Regions from separate parts of the Homo sapiens genome. Here region 1 is linked to region 2. Evidence: fine-mapped expression QTL. A gene starts in region 2. The other region holds a variant in brackets. All regions are shown on one strand. Distances are from middle to middle.

Region 1 (8,714 bases), 90 kb after region 2:
GTTCAAAGTGGGAGATGTGGAGCCTCTGGTGTCCTCCAGCCTCCCTCAAGGGCCCTCGGTCTGCAATGGAGGAACTTGCCACATCCCTGCCCTCCCATCTTTTACCTGTGAGAGCACTGTGTGTGAGCTGAGGACAGCTGGGCTCTGGGGAAGCTGTCTCACAGCTTGTGAAGCTCCAGGCACCTGAGCCCTTGGAGGTCTTCAGAAAATATCTGTTTCCTTCTCCTTTAAGTTAGGGCTGAGATGACTCAGAAAGTTCCTGGGAAGTAAGATTTTTTAAACTCCTGATCCGCTCTTCGTCCTTGACCTTGAGATCGGCAGGTCTTTCTAATTCCTGCCCCCATGGTGCACGCCTGCCAAGGGATACAGGATTCCTTTCATGATCTTGTCCTCCTGTGCACATGGAAGCCTCCCATTATTCCTTCTAGGGCCTGGAACGCCAGGCTGAGGGATGAGGCCTTTCTCCTGGAGCCCCTGAAGGTTTCTGAGCAGGAGAGGTGACAGGGCCTCCTCCTCCTCCTTTCTCATCTCCCCAAACCTTTCTGGGATGTTTATTTGTGAGATCTGAACCAGGCTGGTTCCATGAGGATGTTGCAGGCCTTGGTAGGCTGGGTACCTAAGAGAAGTCTTAGCAGGAGAATTTTGGCCTTTGGTTTGTGGAGAGGGTATTTATTGTTGGCAGATGGAGGTTGGAGGAAAGGAAGAAAGGGGTGTTGTGGGCTGCAGAGGCCCCCAGAGCCAGGCAGGCAGGCCTCCCCTCAGCCCTGAACCATGTCGCCACTGGGTCATCTAACAGGCCACTTAGATGAGGAAACTGAGACCCCGAGAGAAGACAGGCAGGCCACATCACACAAGCTAAGTCATAGCAGATTTGGGATGAGAACCCAGACAGCACTGAATAAACTTTTCTGCCCTGAGGGGCCTCGCACCTCAATCTGATGTGCCTGGGAGTGTGCCTGCTGCCCCGGGAAGCCTAACTGGTCTCTTGTGTCCTTTTTGCTTCTTGCTGAGCCCAGCCTGGGCATAGTGGTAGATGTGACTGCAGCTGGCGTCGTTGGGTCTGGAATGCAAAACATGGGAATCAGGCCTGGCACCCCGGCCAGCCAGGTGAGTCCACCTGCTTCCCCTGCAGTGCTGGCTCAGCTCTGTGGGGGCCTCATACCCAGCCCAGCTGGCCCCCTTTGGCAGAGATGCAACAGGTGCCCTCCAGGTATGTCACTGCCTTCTCTGGCTGACAGTCACGATGAGGAAGGGACCCTGCTGCATGTCGGTGCTCTGACAGTTGCACAGTGCCCTCCCACCTTCGTCTCTTAGGAGCTTCACTGCCACCCTGTGGGAAGGGATGGGCAGGGATGGGGTGCAGGGAAGGGGTGCCATCTCCACTGAAGATCTGAGCCAGAGCTGTGCAGGGGATGGGGCTGTCCAGGTTAGCAGGTGCAGGGAGGGGTCAGGATAGGAGCCCAGTGCTTGTGGACCTGGAACCCCTACCTTATAGTCATTAAAAAGCATTTCTTACACTTCACAAGAGACCATTTGGGGAACTGGTTAAGAGCACAGGTCTGGGACTCAGCCCTGGGTTCAAAGCCTGGCTCCACCACTCACTGGGTGTGGAATGCACATTTGGTTGCTTAGCTTCTCTGGACATCCCTGTAAAAAAGCATCACCCCCAATGGGGAGAGCAATCCTCAACTCGTTGAAGAGGAACTTAGATAGCACATGTTACATGTGTGGCCAACCAGAGGACAATTCAGCGGATGCCTGTGTCAGGAGCCACCCTTTGGAGGGCAGTCACCTTGAGCTTTCAATATTAGGAGGGGCTTCCTCTCTGCCAGGCTGGGCCTCCCTGGAGCAGGCTGCTGGGGTGCTTGCAGAGGCTGGCTGCTCATTTGTCGGAGACGTACAAGACACTCCTGTGCTGGTGCAGTGGTGCACACACTCAGCTGTGCTTTCTTTCTCCTGTATGAGCCCATTTGCACTAGGGGCCATGTGGCTTTGGCCCCTGGAGCATCATGGCTAAGTGCTGGGGCTCCACCACTATTGTCTGTGTAACCTGGGGCAGGTCTCTTTACCTCTGGCTACCTCAGTTTGCTTACCTGGAAAATAGGAATGCTCATGATAGCCATGCATGTGAGGGACTTAGAAGAGTGTATACAGTTAGTGCCCAATAAGTGTTTATGATGGTTTTGCTTATAAGACAAGCCCTTTTCCAGAGCCCACACTTGGTGCTGACTTAGAAGCTTCAGCATTGCCAGGGGTTAGACCACATGGGTCATCTAAGTTTCCTCTCGACTACACAAATTTCCTCTTGGTTCTGCATACGTTTCCTCTCAACTAAGCATACCCTGCCTTCTCCAGGGGTTCTGATGAAGGCAAGCAGCCAAGCAAACACTGTCTGACTGACTTCTAGGAGTTTGACCCCAGGTAGTCCAGGCTCAGAGCAGCACTGAGACCAAAAGCAAACAGCCCAAGTCTGGGCATGGTGGCTCATGCATGTAATCCCAGGATTTGGGAGGCTGAGGTGGGCAGATCACTTGAGCCCCGGAGTTCGAGATCAGCCTGGCCAATATGGCAAAAACCCGTCTCTACCAAAAAAAAAAAAAAAAAAAATTTAAATATTAGCCAGGTGTGGTGGCACATGCCTGTAGTCCCAGCTTGGGAGGCCGAGGTGGGAGGATCACTTGAGCCCAGGAGAGTGAGTGCAGTGAGCTGAGATCACGCCACTGCACTCCAGCCTGGGCTACGGAGTGAGACCCTGTCTCTAGTAAATAAATAAAAACAGCCCAAAAGCAATTTCTAAGGGATGCACTTTGTTTTTATTTGTATTTCTTGAATTCTGTGAAGGGAAACCTAATTCCCAGTGACTGCTCCTTAAAACTCACTCTGCTTTCTCTTGGGCATCACATACACACCCTCGTTGCTCCTTGCCCTTCTCCTCCTCCCTCTTTTCATCACAAAATCCTCAAAAAATCACCAGGCAAGACGGGAGCATCTGAGGGGATGGGGCTGCGGAAGGGGAAGGACTGAGGCCATTCGCATCCATCATTCTTGCGCCCTCCCAGGTAAGAGGCTTTGCAGCAAAGCATAGAGGGATGTGTGGGTCCTGATTCCCCAGAGCCCAGCATGGACATTCTCATTTCCTCCTCAAAGCTGGGTTCACTGCCCGAGGGAGCCCAGTGGTAACTGAGGGTGAAGGATGACATGAGAGCCACCCCCTTCCTCAAGATTTGGCCCCAGTCCTAGTCCACTATCCAGGACTTATGTCAAATCGGTTGCCTCAGTTTCTACAAAATGATCAGCAAAGTATGAATGTCATTGAGGCTGGGCGCAGTGGCTCACCTGTAATCCCAGCACTTTGGGAGGCCGAGGCGGGCGGACCACCTGCAGTCAGAAGTTCGAAGCCGGTCTGGCCAACATGGTGAAACCCCGACTCTACTAAAAATACAAAAAATTAGCCGGGTGTGGTGGCAGACACCTGTAATCCTAGCTACTCGGGAGCCTGAGGCAGGAGAATCGCTTGAACCTGGGAGACAGTGGTTGCAGTGAGCCGAGATCTCACCTCTAGCCTGGGCAACAAGAGCAAAACTCCATCTCAAAAAATAAAAAAATAATAAAAAAAAAGAAAAAGAAAGTCATTGAGTGGCCACAGATCAAAATACACACAAGAGTTTCTGGCTTTTCTTAGGAGCCCAGCTGAGCAGGTCTGGAAGCCAGTGGAAGGGGCTGCTGTTTTTTTTCACAACTTACCCTGATATTCCCTCATTTTATCCTCACCTCAATAGTTATAACTATTATCTCCATTTTACAAACGAGGAAACAGGCTGAATAACACACCCGAGGTCATACAGCTAGCAAAGACAGTGCCTGTTGCGCATTGGTTTCTGGATCCTGTGGAAGTGTTTTGCAGGCCAGCTCTCATTTGCTTCCCTGGATCTTAGACAAAAGCTAGCTTTTGTAAAACTCATTCTGATGCCCTCACCCTGCTCCCCAGGTGCCCCATTTCTGCCAATTTCCTATCTCTGGTCTTTGCTCACTGTTAATGAGAATTAGTTCAGCTTTATGTGTTCTCTCACCCCAAGCTCCTGGCCACCAACTGCACATGTCAAAAGCAATTTCCATCAAAA[T/A]TAGCAGGTAGCGGAGTGTGAAGTGCTTAAACAGCGTCAAGAGAGGTTTCCTCTGGAGATGCCAGGGGAAGGTGTAGAAGTCAGTCATCAGATTTCCACTGGGCACCCTGGTCTTTGCAGAAACCCAAAGACATCTGGCTGGGTGTGGCTGAATAGGAGGATCTAGTTCCGAAGGTGGATGGGCACGTGGATGAGGGGAGGGACAGCTTGGCCAACACATTGCCCAGGAAAAGCAATAGGCAGAGAAGTGCCTGGGACCCTGGCTCCTGGGCTGGCCTGACCCCAGATGCACACACATCCTCATTTTGTCTTCCCAAGGCCCTTCCCCCAGGAACCCATGGCTCCTTGAAGCCTAGTCTCCTCTTAGAGCTGCCCTGGGCAGAGGAGGCCTTGCTGCATCCTGACTGTGAGGCCCACAGGGTGCATGGGCAGCGGTTCTGGGAGGATAACCCAGGTCCCCTCATGCAGTGTTGGGCCCACCCCCTGTGGGGAACTGATGCCCACTTAAGCATAGCCTCCCTTTCCCCATCTCTACTGTTCTTTCCCATGACAATGAGACCCCTCAGGTTGTGACAGTAGACCCTGGCTCTTCAGGCCCCCTGAATTGGGGCAAGGGAGATGACCTCACCACCCTTTCCTTGGCCCTGGGGACACTGTGGCCAGGACCCTTCTGAGCAGGTCAGTGAACCTGGAGGAACTGCAGGAGGTAGCAGAGGCATGGGCAGGAAAAGGGGTTGAGTAGAGACTTGCCACAGGAGACATGAGGCTGGTGTGAGCTGCCGCTCCTGGGAGGGCATTAACCCTCAGCTGCACTGAGCCCCAGAGGATATGCCTGGGATTCCCTTTATAATGGTTTCTTCACAGCAAGGTGGGTGGAGTCATTTTCAGGCTTATTTGGCTGCTTAAGGTGACATGCAGGGTATTTGGATCTGGATAACGGGGGGCTTGTAATTTATAGCAGTGCTTTTTGAATGAATGAAAAACAGTGTTGTATGGACAAATGGATGGATGGATGGATGGATGAAGGACTAGATGGGTAGAGGGATAGATAAAGGGATGGATGAAGGGACGGATGGATGGATTGATGGATGGATGGATGGTTGAATGGATGAAGGGATGGATGGATGGATGGATAGATGGATGGTTGGTTGGTTGGAGGGATGAATGAAGGGATGGATGGATGAATGGATGGATGGATGGTTGGTTGAAGGGATGGATGAAGGGATGGATGGATGAATGGATGGATGGATGGTTGGTTGGTTGGAGGGATAGATGAAGGGATGGATGGATGGATGGTTGGTTGGTTGGAGGGATGGATGAAGGGATGGATGGATGAATGGATGAATGGATGGAGGGAAGGATGGGTGGATAGATGGATGGATGGGTGGATAGATGGATGGATGGTTGGATGGGTGGATGAAGGGATGGATGGATGGATGGATGGATGGATGGTTGGTTGGTTAGAGGGATGGATGGATGGATGGTTGGATGGATGGATGAAGGGATGAGTGGATGAATGGATAGCTGGATGGTTGAATGGTTGGATGGATGGATGAAGGGATGGATAGATGGATGGATGGTTGGTTTGAGGGATGAATGAAGGGATGGATGGATGGACAAATGGATGGATGGATGGATGAAGGGATGGATGAAGGGATGGATGCATGGATGGATGAAGGGATGGATGGATGGATGGATGGACGGATGGATGGATGGATGGATAGCTGGATGGATAAAGGGAAGGATGGATGATGGATGGATGGTTGGATGGATGAAGGGATGGATGGACGGATGAAGAGATGGGAGAATGGATGATGGATGGATAGATAGATGAAGAGATGGATGGATGGGTGGGTGGTATGCAGCATACCTGAAGTGCCTGGAATCCTAGATCCATTCTTCATATTCACTAAGCCATAGGACTCAAATCTATGGTTTCAAGTTCCTTGAAGTTTGGGCTCTTCTCTAGTCATATTGAATAAGGATTCAATATGAGCAGATCCTCTGTGCAGATGGAGTTGGCAATAATTTGAGCAGTACTGACTCAAGAAGATGAAGATCATGGGCTTTGAAATCAAATGAACCCAATTTTGAATGCTGGCTCTGCAATTCCTAAGCTGTGAGCGTGTGCCAGTCATTTAATCCTGCTGAGCCTTAGTTTCCTCATCTACGGAGAGTGTTAATAATGTCTACCTTAAAGTATTGAATCTGAGGATTAAGCCAGATAATACATGTAAAGCATCTAGTTTAGTGTTCAAACATGCCCCGCATGGCACTCAGTAGGTGACAAACAGAAACTTGTTTTCTAGCCCCCAGTCTAAAATCCTTCCCACTGGAATTTCTAATACTTTAAGACTTGGGGCAAAGACCTTCACTCCAGAAGCCCCCTCCTCAGAGGCATGAGTTTGGGGAAAATCTTTACCCAGAACTCCCAACTGGTGGTTGAAAAAGTGATTCCACAGTTCCCGGGGTACAGCATGGATCCCTGAGGTGCCAATGCTGGGCCTGCAGAAATCATTCAGCAAATGAGATGCCTGATGTCTTAGCCCAAGAGAGTGGGGCAAGTTCAGGACAAGAGCATTCCGTAGAATTGTTGGGCTTTGAAAAGGCATGCCTGAGCCAGGGAGCCCCGTGAGGAAAGGGGCAGGGAGGAGGACACTGGAATGAGGAAGGGAGGCTGGATGTTCACTGGCCCACACGGCTCCACCTGGAGCCGTCCCAGACTCTGAGCTTTTTGGGGTGACCTTGGGTGTGCTTCAACCAGCCACAGTCCCTCAGAGCAGTGCCAAGGGGTTCACCAAGGCCACTTGTTCACACCAAACAGGGTTTAAAAGGCATTTTCATATTCTGCCCAGTGCCAGGCATGCTGATTGAGAGGGATTGTGGATTTGGCATTTGGGGCTCATATGACCCATGGGCTCACCTTGAGAGCCATGAAATACCATTCTGAGCTCCCACCATGAAGACGGAAGAGATTTTCCTCCAGCCCTCATGCCTCTGTTGATCGTGGCCTTTCCCCTCTCTGCCTGTCAGGAGTGAACGCTCCCTCCTGGCTATGCAGCAGAATGTGGCAGGGACTCCCACAGAGGTGCAACCCAGGGAGGGACCTTTGTCAGGCCTGTGCTGGGCAGCCCAGTGACCCTTTCTTCTCCTCAACAGTCCCCTCCAGGACAGCCTGCATCTCTCCCCCTCAGCAGCTCCTGCCGTCATCTCTGCCCTTCAGGGTCCTTCTGGCCTGGACTGGACTGGCTGCAGAAGTGATAATAGGTCTTTTGCTTGGCTCATTCCTGCTGTCTCTGAACCAAGTACACCAGCCTTTCTCAGTTAAACGGTTTCTAACATACAGGGAATTATGGAAATAGCATGCAGCGAGGGGTCCCAGAGCAGCCCGTCTTGGTCTGTGCACTGAGGTTAAGCTCTGCGCGTGGACTCGTGAAGGAACTTCAGCCTTAGAGCTGGGCCTCCAGGACCAGCAGAGGAGCCAGCCTGCCCTTGGGGCTTGAAGTTGAAGGCAGTATCCAGTGCAGAGGGCCTACCCAGGAGCTAAAGAAATAATTCAAGCCTGGCAGAGACGGCCGAGGCAAAGACCATGCCTCAAGTCCGGAACATGGGAAGGAGGTGTGGACGAGGCTGGGCAGAGTGAGCATGGCCTGGAGAGGATCCTAGGGGCTGGAATACAGAGCCAAGTCCATTTTCTCAGGGTCCATGTTCAAGAGGTATTTAGGATGAGGAACCAACAGGACTCGGCAGCTGAGTGTGTGGTGAGGTGGCAGGAAGGAAGAGTCAAGGATGATGGGGCCACCATCAGTAGAGAATCCAGGAGGCTCGGCAGGGGCAACAAGGTGATTGTTTCCTTTGGGAACTTGAGTTCGAGGGGTCTCAAGCGGAAGTGTCGGAGCAGCTGCTTTGAAGTTCAGGAACTCAGGGGCTGGAGGTACAGATTGAGATGTCATATTCACCAGCTAGAGAGGCCATAGCAAATACCACAGGCTGGGCAGCTTCAACAGCAGATATTTATTCCCTTGTGGTTCTGGAGGTAAGAAGTTCAAGGTGAAGGTGCTGGCAGGGTTGGTTTCTCCTGAGCCTCTCTCCTTGGCTTGCACATGGCCACTTTCTTCCTGTGTCCTCACATGGTCATCTCTCTGTGTGCCTATGTTCCTAATCTCCTGTTCCTATAAGGACACCAGTCACATTGGATTAGGGCCCCTTCATATGACCTCACTGAACCCTAATCACCTCTTTAAAGACACAGTCTCCAAAGACAGTCACATTCTGAGGTGCCAGGGGTTAGGAACTCAACGTAGGACTTTGGAGGAGGCACAGTTCAGGCCATAACAAGGGTCATCAGCTCCAAGACAAGTGACCGCAAGAGTGGAGGGGACACCCAGGGAGAATGGGTTTGGGTGACAAGAGGGCCTTCGAGGACAGGAGCATTCCACGGGTGAGAGGACGCAGAGGCTGCCATGAAGGAAACAAAGGGGATGGTGAGAGAAGACTGAGGACCATAGGAGGGCGGTGCTCTGGAAGCAATGGTGCTGGGTGCCCAGGATGGAGGCGTCAATGCTGCAGGGAATCAGGGACCCACACCCGGAG
Region 2 (8,714 bases):
GCCCTCGAAGGTGCAGGGACTTGTCCCCAGGGGACTTCCCCAAAGCAGACCATTGCAAAGGAAACAGCACAGCTAACTGATTTCCAGAGACAGCTTTACCATCTTGCTCTTTTCTCTTTTAATCTCTTTTCTGCATACAAATAGATCACCTGTGTTATCTCTGGGCGCAGGAATTAGAGGTGATTATTATTCTTTTTGACAGTTTTCTGCATTTTCCAAATTTCCCACTATCAACATGTATCGGTCACTTAATATAAAAATAATTTTCAAGCAGGCAGCAATACCTGTGATGTGTTTTACAAGCCCTCCCCTCATCTCACAGCAGCAGGAGCTCACCCAAACTGTGTAGATTTGACTCCACTCTTCCATCAGAATGCAGTGCAGTTCATCAATCAGCTGTGTAAAAAGTGGAAGCAACTCCGGTATCCAGCGACAGATGAATGGTTGAACAAATGTGGTCTATCCATACAGTGGAATATTATTTGTCCTTAAAAAGGACAGAAATTCTGACCCATGCTACAACGTGGATGAAACTTGAGGGCATTATGCTATGTAAAATAAGCCAGTTACAAAAAGACAAAGACATTATGATTCCTTTTATAGGATGTTCCTAGAATAGTCAAATTCATAGAGACAGAAAGTAGAATGGTGGGTGCCAGGAGCTAGGGGGAGGGGAGTGAGGAGTTATTGTTCAATGGGTACGGAGTTTCATTTGGGATGATGAAAAAAATCTACAGATGGACAGTGGTGATGTCTACACAACAATGTGAATGTTCTTAACACGATGAACTATATACAGTTAATAATGGTTACATTATTATGGTAAATTATGTTATGTATATTTTACCACAAAAATAGTCTTTTTAAAGGTCAGCTGTGTTCATCTGGAATCACCTTAGGGCTGAGGCCTAGGAAATGGGATCGCTACATTGATCTGAAAGGTCAAATGGGACTTTCAGAGAAAAGTGGAACTTCCTGTCGTGAGGTCACTCCTTAAGGGTGACCACTGTATCTTATTCACCTCTTCCCTCCAGCCCCAAGCACAGCCCCAGCTTACTTTGTGGGTTCCAGGTGTTCAGAGCTACCTGCAAAAGGTACCCAGGGCAGGAGGAGGGCTCCAAGAGCCTGAGGAAGGAGACTAAGGCTTCTCACTTAATTTGGGGAGCAGCACTGCATCAAACATTTGCATTCATAGTGTGATTGTTTATCCTTTTCTTTGTTTATCTTTCCACTACCTCATTCATTTTGTTGTTGTTGTTGTTTCATGCTTGGACTGTAAGAGAATGTACTACCTCATTCTTCATCAGGGCCAACAGTGTGCCAGGCACTAGGAACAGGGAACTGAGTGAGCTTGAGTAGAGAAGAACCAAAAGGAAGGAAAATGCTAGAGTCTCATCCACTCGTCCACCCCTAATGTGGGGCATGACTTTATTCATTTAGCCCCATTGCTTCCAAAGCCATCCAGGGAGGCCCCAAGTTCCCTGAGGCATCCTTTCCAGGCTTTTTACAACTCTCCACATTGGGAAGCTTTTCCTCGAGTCTGAATCTGCATAAGCATCTGAGAGATGCTTGAGTTGTGTTGAGTTGAGTTTAGAGACCCTAGTGTTGTTATCCGAGATTAAATCTCGTTAATACCCAGGGGAAACTGCAGAGCAGGTGAAGTTTTTTTCTCTGCTCTCCGCAATCATTCAAACACCTGACAATCACAAAGCTGCCTTTCTGGTTCCTTGTCTCTTGTCTCTTTCATCCTTTCTACCTGGAGGATTTAGGATCCTCAAAGATCCCACACCCTTCCCCATTTACCTGTGGCTCAGTGCCATCTAGAAGTTTCATTTGCTAGTTAAAATAAAAAAGAGTTGTGAAATTCCATTGCTTATGTCTACTTTCATACAGGCGTGAAGTTTTTACTAGATATTAGAACACAGGGCTGATTTGGGGCAGGGAACGAGGATTTCAGAATCCCCCTTGATGTTAATTCCTAAAACGTCTTCCTAAGAACACTGTGCATTTATGTTGTTTTCAGGTTTACAAGGTACTTTTGCAGCTTTCACCTATTTGGGCCTCACGTGACCCCTAGGAGGGTGTGGGGAAGAGATATAATTATCCCTTTCATGTAAGTAAAAAAAAAAAAAAACTGATGTTCAGAGAAGTTGACCAAAGCCATATAGATAAAAAGTGATAAAGCTGAGATTCAAGCTAAGATCTTTAGCTTCGAAACTAGAATGCGATAAATTATAACGTGGTGTTAACTAGGGGGGCGATTTCGTATTAGCAATTCAGCCAGTACTCACCTGTGTTCCGTAGACCCTAGCACTGTGTCTGTCATTGCTAAGCCACCATCAGGACTGAGGTCTGTTGAGGACAAGTGAGGAGAGGGGACAGGCACCTCACCCCAAAGCTAGGCCCACCTGGATCCCAGATTCTAGCAGGTTCCTCTAGTGCAGATTCACTTTCTCATCCAGCCAACCAATATCATAGTTGCAAATTCCAAAGCTATCATCTGTTTCACCTTTTAACCAAGTGCATTTTTTAAAAAGGAGATTTTTTTTTCTCCATTAGTGAGAATAGGAATCCAAGCATGCTAACATTGCATCATTTAGAGATCCAAGGAGAGCCACCCGGGAACCCCCAGAAGAATGTGCAAATAAGATGCAGTGACTCTAGAGGATGTATTCCCAGCAAGATGCCTCAAACCTGCATCCCCTGTGATAAGCCCACTATATCATTTCATTTAATTTGTCACTGGAAACCAAAGGAGGAATTGTTCCAGGTGATTGACAGTAATTAGAGGGAACTTCCACCTCTGGTTAGGAAGATGTCAAAAAAAAAAGAGCTGCACACTTTGACCCTCTAAGTGGCTGGATTGGCAGATTTGGGGAAGGGGAGAGAGTGGGATGAGGTCCCTAATTGTAAAGTGGGTCTGGGTGAATGGGGTACACAGAGAAGCCTATGTAAAAGAGATTGCATACGTAAAGTGCTCGGACATCAGTGTCCCCACTGGGCTTGTGTCGCTGCTCACGTACACCAGTTCCAGGCCACCCCCACCCCACCCCCACACTCACTGCAGCATCTCTAGCCTGCCTGAATCCTGGTTCCGTGGAGGTCAAGGTGATTTGAGCTCACTTCCCTGTCCATGGTTCTACTAATTCTGTTTTCAACTTCTCACCCACCAGTCCACATTCTCCTCTTTTTACTAACATTTCCTTCTCCCAAAAGGCTGCTTCCATCCCACCTGGTTCCTTTCTGCTGTCCAGAACCTCCCCAAGCATACAGGTCTCAGCTTTTTCACAACTGGCAACATTACACTCCCAAAGAAGCCCCTCCATTAGAGAAACCAGTATGATTTCTTCTTCCAAATAAATGCACTCAAGGTGCTTAGGGGCTAGAGAGTGTAATTCTAGCTTTTATATCTGTTTTGCTCAATCACAGAAGTTTAACACTCAAGGTTGGGTGGGATCTTGAAGGTCATCTGAACAACCACACCAGCTGATGGAGGAATCCACTTCACAAATGCCAGCCTTGGAACAAGCCCAGCTGTAAAGAACTTGAAGAACCTTGGAAGGTATTTACCTTCTAAGTCAGTAAATAGCATTGCTGTCTTTTAGCCCTTTTAAAGGACATAGACAATTTACAGAATGAGTAAATAAATGAACAAAAGAATGGACAGCAGTAGTAAAGACATAGGAGCAGATACAGTGTAACAAAGCCACTATTCCTGAGACTGGGCTAGCCATCCTAGCCAGGAGGTGTTCATCGTCACCTGGCTGTGGACAGCTCCAGCAGGGACAACCAGGAGACTAAAATATTTCTAGGAGCAGGTGACATCCAGCATTCAGACATAACCCCCTCCTGAGTACCCAGAAACTGCTAGTATTTCTTTGACCCCATATCCACAAGCTCTCCACATGCATGCCGCCCTCAACATAAGCCTTGGGTACCTTTCTTACCTGTGGTTACAGAAGAAAACAGGTCATTGAAAGGATGCAGAGAACCAGCCTGGCTTGGAGATTCTGGGCAGCTGACAAAAGTCACCCCAGAAATAGAGTGGCAGGTACAGAATAGAGCTCAGTCACTTCATTTCATGGTCAAACAGAGGCTGAAGAGTGAGGGTTTAGGAGACACCCCGTCGAGCAGAAGACTTACATGAGAGGCATTTGGCTTCCCGGGGACAGCTGGGCAAGCTCTGCAGAGAGGTGGGTTTTCCTGGGGCTGTCCAGCTCTGGCAGCCAGAACGGCTTCATGCAGGTGCCACTGAGGACAGCCCAGGCAGCCCAGCACAAGCGATTCTGCAGGTGAAACCCAAGCCTGGCCCCAGGAGGGGATGAGGGCTCAGCACACAAGCACACAGGCTCACGCTGTTCTCTCTCTCTCTCACACACACACACACATACACACACACACACACACACACAGCCTCTCTGGAGGGGAAGGAGGAGGAGCCTGTGACTCTCCAGCCTATGTCCGGTGGGGACAGATGCAGCTCTGTCCAGTCACCACGATGCTCCCTTCCCTGCTCTCTGGACCCCTGGGCTCCAGGATCACTGCCTGGGGCCCCTGAGTGCACCCACAGGTTCTGGGTCCTGGGTCCTGGGTCTGTCTGTCAATACAGCTTCACTGTATGTGAATCCACTTCACAAATTCCAGCCTTGGAACAAGCCCAGCTGTAAAGAACTTGAAGAACCTTGGAATGTATTTACCTTCTAAGTCAGTAAATAGCATCGGAAAAATTGGAGTAAGGACAGAGCTGCCAGCCAGCCCACGGTTCTCTCCTTGCCCTCCTCCCCTGTGAGACCCCTCCCCCCACCACCCTAGAGGACCACCGGTCACTTGCGCGGCCACCCGGTGTGGCTGCTTCTCTGTCACCCCGTCAGCCTCCTTGCAGGTGACCTTGCCTTTGATTTTCCGGTGAAGCCTCCTTTTCTCTAGTATCAGATGAGTACTCCTGTCTCCTCCTGTGCATGGCGAATCCTGGCCCACTGTGATCTTGACATCACCCCATCTATTAACAGCCTGGGCTTTCTCAGATCCTCCCTCTCTGCCCCACTCGTTCCTTCCCTTCAGCCCCTAAAGAAGCTCATCCTCCACCCTAAAAACACTCTGCTTTCGGCCTTTCCCTCAAGCTACTTGCTAGCTCATCTCCCTTATTTTGTTAAAAGCAAAGGCCCTGGACATGACCCGGCCACAGACTGCTGAGGCTGAATTTCTAGCTCTGCTCTTGAACAGCTGCATAATCCTGGACAGGCCTCTTCAGCTTCCTATGCCTCAGTTTCCTCAGATGTAAAAAGAGGATGTGAACAATGGCTCCTGCCTCATAGGTTTACTATGAGGAGTCAATTAGCACAAATAAACACAAACACACACGTGCATTGTGTGTACACATGTGCATGCGATTGCTAGAATCATCTTTTGAGAGAATTAAAAGACATAAAATACCAAAAAACCATAAACACTCATATTTCCACTATTCATAATTAATAAATGTTAATATTTTACCATATTTACATATATATAAAGTTAGATGTATACATTTTTCATTTGGAGACTGAAGGAAGGAAGGAAGGGAAGGAGGGAAGAAATAAGAAAAAAGAAAAGAAAGGAAAGGAAAGGAAAGAAAAGAAAAGAAAATCACAGCTTGTATCCATCAGGATTCTTGGTTGCAAGCAATAAAAACCTACCAATTACTTTAAGTGGAGAATGGTTTTATTGAGGAACAACGGGTGGTTCACAGAAGCACCTAGAAATCTGGAGGGGCTGCTTGGAGAGCAGGGAGAAGAGGGAAGCCTCTGCCCCGCGGCCAGCATGGTGGGTCCTGCTGCTACAGAGCTGCATGTGAACCTGGCACCGTCATGGGTGCCGCTGTCACCGCTGTCCCTGGAAGCAGCCATCCCTGCTGCTGCCACCGCTGCCACAGTTAATTCTCCTCCAGCCCTGCTCCTTTGTGTCACTAGCTCTGCATACAAAGGTCGAAACAGATGCATCTGATTAAAGCATGTGCTCCCAAACCAGATGCCAGGAAGGCCAAGGAAGCAGGAATCTGGGGTTTTGAGCTTCTATGTGGAAGGTGGGCTCTGCCCACTTCAAGAGGGGGGACATTCCTGAAATATTTGAAAGTTGTTTCAATGCTGGAAAGCACCCCCCTCCCCGCCACACGAAATCTAGCTCTTTGGCTCCTAACATCAGTGCACACTCGACTTTCCATCATCACACTTTGAAAAAAAATGTTTACATCTAATTGTCCTAAAATTTTCACCCAGAATTTGTTTTAATCAGGTTTGGTAAGACATGCAGACACAGAAGTGACTGTCATAAAGGAAGGAGTTTATACTCACAGATCCCTAGAAACAGGAGGGGTGGCACATTCCCGCAGGGCCACACAGAGCAGCACCAGGGAGTGTCAGGAGGTGGAGGGCACAATGTGGGAAGCCTGGCCCCGAGCCTTTATGAGGTTTCCCCGGGAAAACCAGGGCAGTGCAAGGAAGCAGCTTGCGATGAGATAGTTGGAATAATCTTGGTGGGCTCTGAGCTATAGGGATGGTCTCTAATTGCCCAGTACCTAGCTCTGAGGTGATTTGTGGCAGGAGGAATACTGGCTCGGTGTGTGAGAGTTAGACAAATGGTGCTGTTGGGGATACTGAGTCAAGATTAGGCAGAGGGCTTGTACTATAACTGTAGTGCACCTGCAAAAGCTGATTGCAGGGGAGATGTAACAAAGTTGGCTGTTAGTTTGGCCGTGCATATAGTGGATGCCAAACATACAAATGTAGAATCTAGCAGAATGCAACCATTCCTCACACAAGCAAAAAGCCTCCCCCTAACCCCACCCTAACTCCACAGGGATAGAACCCCAAGTCTCACCAGTGACCATCCAGCTCCAAGTCCAGCCTCCTGCTCTAATTCCTGACACATGTGCCACCTTGAAATTCTGTTTTCTATGGAATAAATCATAACGTTCACTCAAAATACACACATAGAAAGTAATGGGGTGGGCAGAATATGAAATAAATTAGCAAAGCCAGTAAGAAAATACAGACAGGTACAGTGCTCATTGTAGTAATAGATCATGAGGTTAGAGTGGGTATGTATTGGTTTCCTCTCCAGCCATTCTCCAGAATAAGCATCTACTGTATTCCACAAAAGCCAGATTGCTGCCTTCTCAAGCATATAAGGCATTCACTACAATCAACTTGCCACCAAGTGAATAATTTGAACCTCTGGGCTCTGCCAGCACATCCAGAGACCAGGGTTTGCCACTACTGCTGGGAAGATGAGCATTCGGGCCACATTGGGAACAGCTTCTGTAATCGGAATCACTTAAGTTTACAATGAACCACTGACATTCTATGAGACCCATCTACCTTAGGTAGCATTTGGAGATCATCAAAATTACCACTTCTGCATCCTTACAGCCTTTGCTGGTGGCCCTAATCCTTGGGATTCCTCTGGAGACATTGTATTAATTGCATTTATGGTTTTGTTAGGTAGGGGGCACTACACAGCTTCCTCTTGCTTCCTCCTTCAGCAGACAGATGATGGACATGTGCCATTGATAGGTTTGGATTTGTGTTGCCACCTAAATCGCGTGTTAAATTGTAATCCCCAATGTTGGAGGTGGGGTGTGGTGGAAGGTGACTGGATCGTAAGGGTGGATTTCTCCCTTGCTCTTCTCATGATAGTGAGTGAGTTCTCACAGGATCTGGTGTTTAAGAGAGTGTAGAATCTCCCCCTTCTCTCTTCTTCCTTCTGTTGTAGCAATGTGAAGACGTGCCTGCTTCCCCTTTGCTTTCTGCCATAACCGTAAGTTTCCTGAGGCCTCCCCAGCCATGCTTCCTGTACAGCCTGCAAACCGTGAGCCAATTAAGACTCTTTTCTTTATAAATTACCCAGTCTCAGGTATTTACAGCAATGTGAGGATGGACTAATACAGCCATGCACTGAGAAGTTTCCCTAACTCTAACCTTCGGACTGAAGGTTCAAACCACTTCCTGCACTTTCCTGTAATTGAGATGATGGTTCTTCCTCACCAATGCACCTCTCAAGGTCTTGGAAAAAGAGGTCTCTGATGAGTCCTTCCACATCAGGAGGAAGGCGAGCAGGTCATATATTAAGAAATCCATTCCAATATTCCTGTTCCTCCAAGTCTTCCATTACATTGAACTAATTTCTGGTATCTCATCTTCACTTTGCATGGACTACCAGTTGAGCAAACTGTGAGTACTTTCTCCAGCTGTTCGACTTTGTAGACTAAACCCAAATCTTTAGAAAGCACACCCCTGTCAGCCAAACTCCACTTCAACTTTCTGTCCTTGGTCTAGGACCTCAAGAGTCTATTCCTGTGTATATTCACCAGATTGTGACCACAAACAAGCAGAATCTTGCAGACTTGGGGTGTGTTTTACGTTTCTTCTCAGGTTTTCCCATGCCCCACCTGCCAGGACATGTAGGGATCTGACTCTAGTTGAAGTCTAGAGGCAGGGAGGGGGTGGATCATGAAGAAAACTGGTTTACCTGGGGTGTGTGGTGTATCCTTCAGGCAAGGATGTGACAGGATTTTCAGCTTAGGCAGGAACAGGCTCATCAGGCAGAGAAAGAGAAACATTTTTCATTGGTAAGGAAGGCTCCATGGCATTTATCATGGAAACCTTCCCAATTCATTTTGTTGTTGTTGCTGTTGCTGTTGAGATGGAGTTTCGCTCTTGCTGCCCAGGCTGGAGTGC

Evidence for each region.
Region 1: its variant is fine-mapped to the expression of CHRNA2 in cerebellar hemisphere (GTEx, PIP 0.99). The same link has a PIP of 0.9 or more in cerebellum.

The regions. Positions count from the first base shown.
Region 1 is chr8:27,564,439-27,573,152 of GRCh38, forward strand. No RefSeq gene overlaps it. Among named protein-coding and RNA genes, the nearest start is that of MIR6843, 42 kb to the right of the region's middle. The variant T/A (reference allele first, on the strand shown) is at 4,122.
Region 2 is chr8:27,474,877-27,483,590 of GRCh38, forward strand. CHRNA2 (cholinergic receptor nicotinic alpha 2 subunit) reads right to left here and starts at 4,385. Exons shown (of 7, transcript NM_000742.4): 1 at 3,948-4,385.